2 linked regions of the Homo sapiens genome follow. The protein of the gene in region 1 purifies or fractionates together with the protein of each later gene. This does not show direct contact. Each region holds a gene or a part of one and is shown in the gene's direction. Other genes may lie near its edges. The genes, in order: LRTM2 and TBC1D15.

Region 1 (3,817 bases):
CCCAGGGACAAATCTGGCAACCAAGGAAGGTCAGAGGCTGGGAGCCGCCTGGAGCAGTGGGCTGACGCAGGGAGCCCGTGGAGGGCGAAGGAGAGGGGTGCGGGCATCCTCCCTCCCTCCCTGCCCATCCCCGCCCTTGCCAGCTGCAGCAGGTAAACACATGCCAGTCCCCTGTCCCCCTCTCTGATGGGCTGGCAGCCTGGGCCTCCCATCTGGAAGGAAGTGGAGACCCCAGCACACAGCCTGTGTCCCAGTTGGGAGACACTGGGGGGGGCAGACCCTAGAAAGGGTAAGTGCCCCCTTGTCCCCCGCGAAGGAAGCCTGCTCCTGCGCCCTGGCTGCCTCAGCGCCCCTACTCTGCGTTCTCACCTCTCCTTGTGTCCCTGTCTCTTCCTAGCAGCTGCCGCAGCATGAACCCCTGAGCTGATGAGTCTTATTATAGCCCGGCTGGCGGAAGACAGAGTGCTGCTATTCACCTCTGCGTGGGCGTCGGTGGTGCAGGGGGAAGCAGCAGGCCATCCAGCGGCTCACACCCTACGCGGCTGCAGCTGCCAAGGGCCTGGCCCCTGCCTCCCTCGGGCCATGGTGAGCTGTGGCGGGGCTAGAGGAACCGGGACCCAGGTGAGGGGAGCCTCCAGGGACAGGTGACAGTTGTGGCCTGTGACCTCACTCTGCTCACCTCGGAGAGATGACCTCAGTTTCTCCACCCATAACTCAAGGAATGCCCAGATGGGAGACCAGGTTGCCATGAAAACATCTGAGTGATCAACATACTCGGGAGGCAACAAGAAGGCAGATGAGGCTGGGTAGGCCCATGGGTGCACCCCCAGCTTTGCGGCACTGTGCCCGACCCTCGGGCTCCTGGAAAGCCGAAGCCTGCCCCGCCCCCATCCCAGGGGCTTGAAGGCTTCCTGGCTCCTCTTCTTCCCCCACCCAGGGAATCATAACTGAGAGGAACAGGAGAGGGCATGAGGAGTGTAAAGAGACACCCGGGCCCTCTCCCTAACCCCTGGGCTGGAACGGGGCTCCCGCGCCTGCCTGTGCTCAGTGCTCCTCCCTCCCTCAGGACTGACAGGCGGCGCACCCAGGGGCTCCTCTCTCCCCAGAGCGACAGGGCCCGGAGAGCCGTGGGCCTCACCATGCTGGCGCCGGGCAGCAGCCCTGGGCAGAGGGGCAGGCTCGCCCTGCAGTGGAGGCAAGTCTCCTGTGAGTACACCCCTGGCCTCGGAGGGGGGTGCGGGTTGGGTGGGGGTGCCGAGGTGACTGTAGGTAGCGCCATATGGGACCTTAGCCACACTCAGGCTGCAGGGAGGCCTACGCCAGATCTTCCTGGGGTACCCGAGGCTATGTTCTGGGAAGCCAGGGTCACGCCCACGGTGACAGCATCCCTGCCAGTCAGAGTCACCGCTGAGTGCTGAGTGGTTAGACCTGGAGCTGGAGGCCACGACAGTTGTTCTACCTCCCCCAGGTAAGTCTCTGTGAGCTTGCTGGGGTCCCCAACAGGAGAAGAGCTCTGCTGGAATGCAGGCCTGCTGAGTCTTAAACAGCCTCACTGGTGCCTGAGCTTGTCGGCCTGTGTCACAGACTGCGGCGAGCCCTTTTGCTCCCGTGGGGAACTGCCCCCTTGGCTGGCCTCGGCCAGGAGCTGGGTCAGCTTGGAGATGTCTCTTATGCTCCTTATGCCTCCGCTTTCCCAACTCTCGGTAGAGGACCTAGTGGGCTCGTGGGATGCGGCGCTGGAAGAGACTTTGGGGAGTGGGTCCAACCCCTCCTGCATATAGGCAGACTGAGCCGTCCATTTACCAAAAAGGGGAGGAAGCGTGAATGAAGGCAACACTTGGCAGCTGTCAGGGTGAAAGGAGCCCTGAGAATTCTCTTTATATGTGGCAAAGGGACCAGGTCAGCAAGGGCTGGTCTGCCCAAGGCTACACGGTGGCAGGGAGGAAACGGTCCCGCGGGACGGCATTCCGCCTGACTTCCCGCTCTGATCCAGCACCCAACACGGGCAGCCTGAATTATTCACCATGTGAGAGAGGCTGGCCCCTGAGTGACTCAGATCTCCTTTCAGCCTCATTCTAGAATCACTCAACACCTCGCAATACGGGCTTATGTTTTCTTGTCACTGGAGCTTTTATGCCACCTTGATCTCCAGGGAGGTGGGGGGCGCAGGGAGTCGCTCTTCCGCAGCGGCTCTCTTAGCCTGCTGTCAGGCCCTTCTCTGGGAGGGGCGAGCGGCTTCTGGTGATGCAGATCCTTTTGAGAGGGAGCTGAATGCGTTGGATTTTATTTCCTGGGGAAAGTCAAGTCTGAAGAATGCTGATTTTCAAATGGCTTGGGGTGGTGGTATGGGGCTGGCTGATCTGGTAGCAGACGGGCTCAGAGGGGTGAGAGGGTGAGCGGAGACATGAGGTAACCCAAGATGGCCAGAAAAAGGGTCTCCGGTGGCTTCCATGGCTGTACCTGTGCTCACTTCTCGCCAAGAACAGTGAGGCTTGCTGTTAGGCTGCAGGGAGGCCTGGGCCAGATCTAGCCACGTGTCAGCTCTCAGCTGTCATCGATCCTCCAGGCAGGGAAGGGGAGAGTCTCATCCTGTTCCTTCAAGCTCCACCCTTTGGGACAGCAGACACCCAGACCCCTACTGGACAAGACTCAAGGCTGTTCAGACCCAGCTCACAGCCCATCGGCCCACCCCGACCTGGGACAGCCAGGTCCCAGGTCCCATGTCAGGGTGGGCCGATGGGCTGTGAGCTGGGTCTGAACTTCTCCATCAGTTCTCTGGCTGGGGTCTTTTCTCTAGGCTGGGTGGAACTGACCTCGGCTGGGCTGACCTGGTGGGGCTGAACTATTTTGAATTCTTCCCAGTTCTCTTTCACGATGAGCAGGCTTCTCTGCTACTCAGGAGGACACTTAGGGGTTTTTGAGGCCACTATTGGAAAGGGCTGCTGCATAATGGAAGGCACTGCTCTGATGTGATTGTTCCCTGAGGGTTACTTCTCCCAGCCCTACAGACAGGACCCCATGCTCGCTACGCAGAAGGGTCTTGGGCAAAAGATGGGACCAGGAAACGAATTCTATTCATCGGGCCATTGTGCAGGAATGCTGCCCTGTAGCCCCTAGGAACAGAAGCCCAGGCTGAGAGCCTAGATGGCTTTAGGGTGGGGGTTAAAGTGGAATGTGTCCTGGGCCCCATGACTTGTCAATGTTGAAGTGGGTTTGTACATCTTAGCCTGTCACTCCCACAGTGGGACCCTAGGTGCACAGCCTGGGCTCTAAATCCTCATGCCAAACTGCTGGCGTCATCATGGGTGTGGGATTGATGGAAACATAACAGCACTTGGGACGCCGTGAAGGACAGGGCTAGGAGTGCTGTTTTGTGCTCTCGCCTTTCCATACACAGCTCCAGAGTTGGGGTGGGCCACAGAGGGGAGGGAGCCAGCAGCCTGGCCATTTTCCCTGGGAAACAAACTCTGTCCCAGCAGTGACACTGGGAGAGGGCATGGGAGCAGGTTTCTCTGACAACCTTATCTCCTTTCTTGTGTCAACATCCATGGTGTCAGTGGGACCCAAACTCCCCGGGAGATGACTGTGGGAGGCCCTGTGAGCTTCCTATCACTGCACCAGCATGGCTTGTCTCTGGGCTCTGGCTGAGTCTGCAGGGTCATTCTCCACTCAAGTGATTCCTCTGCCAGATGTGTGGCAAGGCAGGGCGCCCTGCAGACACTGTGTGATGTCCATTAATATGGAAGTGGCTTTGGATTTGTTAATTATGCTTTTATGTGGTTAATAAACGTTTATGCATTGATTGTGGCTTGTGCCA
Region 2 (3,817 bases), about 70 Mb from region 1:
CACAGCAAATTGAGCTGAAACTTTATTTGTAAGGAGATTCTGAGGTGATCTGAGTGCTTCTGTCTGTTGTGTGTTTGATCTGAGTTTTCTCAAGAGATTTAGTTTACCTGCTTTCTGAGATCATTTTTTAAAGTTTTCCTCCAAAACAGAGTAATGTGTAATTATGTATCATTTATATGATAGCAGAACTATCTCCTCCCTCTTTCATTAAATATTTACTTTTACATGGCTTCAGTGCAGATAGATTTTGGTGAATAAAAATGTAAACTTTGGATTCGCAAATGAAAGACTATTTTCCAGACTTCCCAAGCTACCAATAAAGAAATTTCTACATGATTTTAATAAATACACAAAAGTTACCGAAGTTGAATGATAACGTTTAAGTAAAAAGGCTTAGTATAAGTTCGTGTCCCTTCATTGGTTCAAGAACCTCTTAAGTCTGAAAATTTTTCAAGTCTTGAAAATTGTAAAACAAGGATAATTGAGGGTTTTATAAGAGGAAGTAAAAAAGAAGTTTGACATGTTCAGGTGAAAAAGTAAAACTAACACTTTTTCTTATTTTTAAGTGAGGGATCTGACTCCTTAATTTTCTAGTTTTTCTTTTAATCAAGGGCTCTATTACTGTCACCATTGAGAAATTGTAATAATATCAAGAGACATGTAGGTAAGTGGTCACTTTAGGTACAAAATATTGATTGGGTTAAGCCCAGTTGCTGGCATTGGTTGGGTGTAGAGAGTAACAAAAAAAGAAAGAAGGACGTAGATATGACTATTTAAAAGAGGCTCTTAATTTTGTAACTCCTGTTATGTGAATCTAAAGGTCTGATTGTTAAAGCAGTTGAACCCAAAGTTCTTGTTTTATGTGGCTTACTCATGGTAGTTTGGCATTGCTAACCACTCTGGGCTTGCAACTTTCTTGTTAATTTTTGCAACATTATTCTCGCTTGATTTTTTTCTTTACTTCTCTGACTGGTCTTTCTTAAACCTGTCTTTGAGTGTATACTCTTACATTTGATGTTCCTCTGGATTATCTCTTCACCCCTCTTCTTTCTCATGATGCTCTTGCACATTATTTTTAAAAATATTACCCACTCTTGATAGTGTATCTGCACTGAGACACGTACTGGAAGCTATATATTGTTTGACATCTCAATCTAAAACAACTCATCTTTCTTACTTATGACTAGAGTTCCTCCTCTTCATTTATATTCTTTTCTTGGTGAACATCAGTGTCTACCAATTTCTAAATGCAAAGGAGAAAGATACAATTTTAAGCGAAATGGTGGTGATATGCACAACTTGCAGAAGGTTACATAAAACTTGGGTTTTCAGAGATGATTTTTTCTTTTCTTTTTAGGATATGTTCAAGGAATGAGTGATTTACTTTCCCCTCTTTTATATGTGATGGAAAATGAAGTGGATGCCTTTTGGTGCTTTGCCTCTTACATGGACCAAATGGTAAGAACAGAGATTCCTTCCATTAAACTGATTTTTAAAATTTTAGTTGTATAATTTTATAGTATAAGGTTGATTTTTATATTTAGCCAACTATGATGGAACTTAAAAAAATTACCTCATGCCTTTTGTTACTTTTTCTTTTTAGTAGCCTTTCAAGGGCTTAGAAATACTGGTGGTATTTTTAATACAGGAAATAGTTTGTGCCTGTAGTATAGGAATAATCAGGATTTAATATCAGTAAATGCTTATTTTCTACTAAAGAGCCATGTGTCATTACAGAATATTGATAAAATAGATGAATTCAATTTTGTGGAATAGTTGAACTTTAATATCATCTGTTTCAGAGATAAAGCTTAGTCATGCCAAGTAATATCCTTACCTTTTGTGAAGATTTTGAATTTTGTCATTATAGTAACTGATTTTTCTCCAGATGTGTTTGAACTATTTGTAACTCTGACACTTTCTTAGGAATTCATTGTTATTTTCCCAGAAGTATGTGATTATTAGAATTGAACTGTCTATATATACATGTTAGTACAAAGAACATTTTATCTATTATCATTGTTAAATCTTTGAGACAGAGTTCTAGGATAATAGTGCAGAGAATATTGACAGGAAAATAAAAGAAAAGTCTCTTCAAGCAATCTCAGAAAAATAAAAGCAGAAGGGGTGAGACTAGATAAAGGCAGATGAAGTCCAAAGACCTGACTACATAGAGGTTGCTGTGTTTTTTCAAAATAACACTAACATACTGGATGCTGGGCCTTTATGTTGGATATTGAAATGGCTGGCTTGCTTGCAAGGGATAAACATTTTGAATCTAACCATCTGAAATATTTTCCTGTAATACAGGGTTTAACTCAGAGTTTCTGGGATACAAATGTGAAATTTGGAAGTGGTACCCTTCTCCTTTTTTCTTTACTTCTATTCTTTCCCTTTTGCTTGCCTATTTTTCTTTCTCCTTCAAATTTTCCCTGCTTGTGGCTATTTCCCCAAATCTCTTGTCCATAGATTCAACTTGTTTTTGCTTCTTTCAGTTTTTTTCTAAATGTATACTTGGTAAGATTTGATAGATTTAAAATGTTCTTTTACATTAAATTCATGAATATTCAAATTGGTTTTTTGCCATAAATTAATTTTTTTTGACTATTTGGAAGGATTATCAATGCAGTAATTTGGTAATGTCATAGTTTGTCTTCCTTCCTTTTTTGATTGATTTGTCTACCTTCTTAGTTCCATTTACTCCCAAGTGCTCTAGAAACCTGAGGCATTTGTTATAAAGGTCTGTACAGCTGATACTAATTACATAAAAACTGTTGTCTGCCTTCCTTGTGTTTTTGTTGTTTATCCTCTTTTCACCAGAGCTAGTATGTTCCTTGATAAAAGGGATTATATCTTGTTTCACTGGTAGCATACCAGAATTTTCCTAATGCCTGACATGAGGTTGTTCAACGGGTTTTTGTAGAATAAACATGTGAATCTTTCCCCAGTGATTAGTTTAAATTGCTATAGTAGATATTCTAAAAAAAAAAAAAAAAACACAACTAAGATGAACATACTGCATTTAGTATCATGCAATAAGTTTTCAATAAAACTAATCCAATATTGGCATGTAAATATATATTGACATATAATGCCACATACACACATGCATACAGACGTGTGTATATAGGTCTCATATGTAAAGACTACCTTCTGAACATGTGTAATAAACACTTTACAGTCCGTCATTTTTTGTGTATGAAGGTTCAGTTTCTTTGTTCTGTCATTTTCACAGTAAATGCTCTCTGTGTTTGCCTTTTCCATTAAGGATGTTCTGGGGATTTTTCTAGTCTTTATTCTAAAAAAGATATCTTATGATTATGTTGTCTGCTAACATCTTTTCTTTCATAATATTTGAATGAGAGGGAAATATATGGCAATCAAAATAACCTGTATGATTGTTTTTCACTGCATTGCCCTTGTTTGATGTCCCTAAATCTGTGCTGCTGTTTCTTGATTCTGTGTTTCTGTTTTATAGCTTTACTTCATGTAAGTTTGTACTACCTTTGTGGTGGCTGAACCTAACGTCTGTAAATTTACTTTTGTTGATGTTTACTTGCATCTAATGTAGGTCTAGGCATAGACTTTGTCTATTATCATGGAAATACAAAGTACAAGTGATCTGATGAACTTTGTTATACCCATCATCCATTTTGCCATATAGTTTTAATTCCTTTCTCCTCTCCATCTCCCCCTCCCCTGCCCCATACAGACACATTTATTTACAGACACATTTGAAGCCCTTTGTATATCCATTGTTGATCCCACTCTCCCTTCTCCAGGAGTAACCACTTTTTCGAATATGGTGTCTGTCATT

What was found.
Region 2: the proteins of LRTM2 (region 1) and TBC1D15 purify together in Homo sapiens (affinity purification with mass spectrometry; one large-scale study listed by BioGRID and IntAct). This does not show direct contact.

Annotation. Positions count from the first base shown.
Region 1 is NC_000012.12:1,827,010-1,830,826, forward strand, and holds part of LRTM2 (leucine-rich repeat and transmembrane domain-containing protein 2 precursor), read left to right. Parts: intron 1-397; exon of another isoform or gene 398-400; 5' UTR 401-585; exon of another isoform or gene 586-968; coding exon of another isoform or gene 969-1,139; coding exon 1,140-1,206; intron 1,207-3,817.
Region 2 is NC_000012.12:71,912,469-71,916,285, forward strand, and holds part of TBC1D15 (TBC1 domain family member 15), read left to right. Parts: intron 1-611; exon of another isoform or gene 612-664; intron 665-1,357; coding exon 1,358-1,458; intron 1,459-3,817. UniProt on the Homo sapiens protein: Acts as a GTPase activating protein for RAB7A. Does not act on RAB4, RAB5 or RAB6.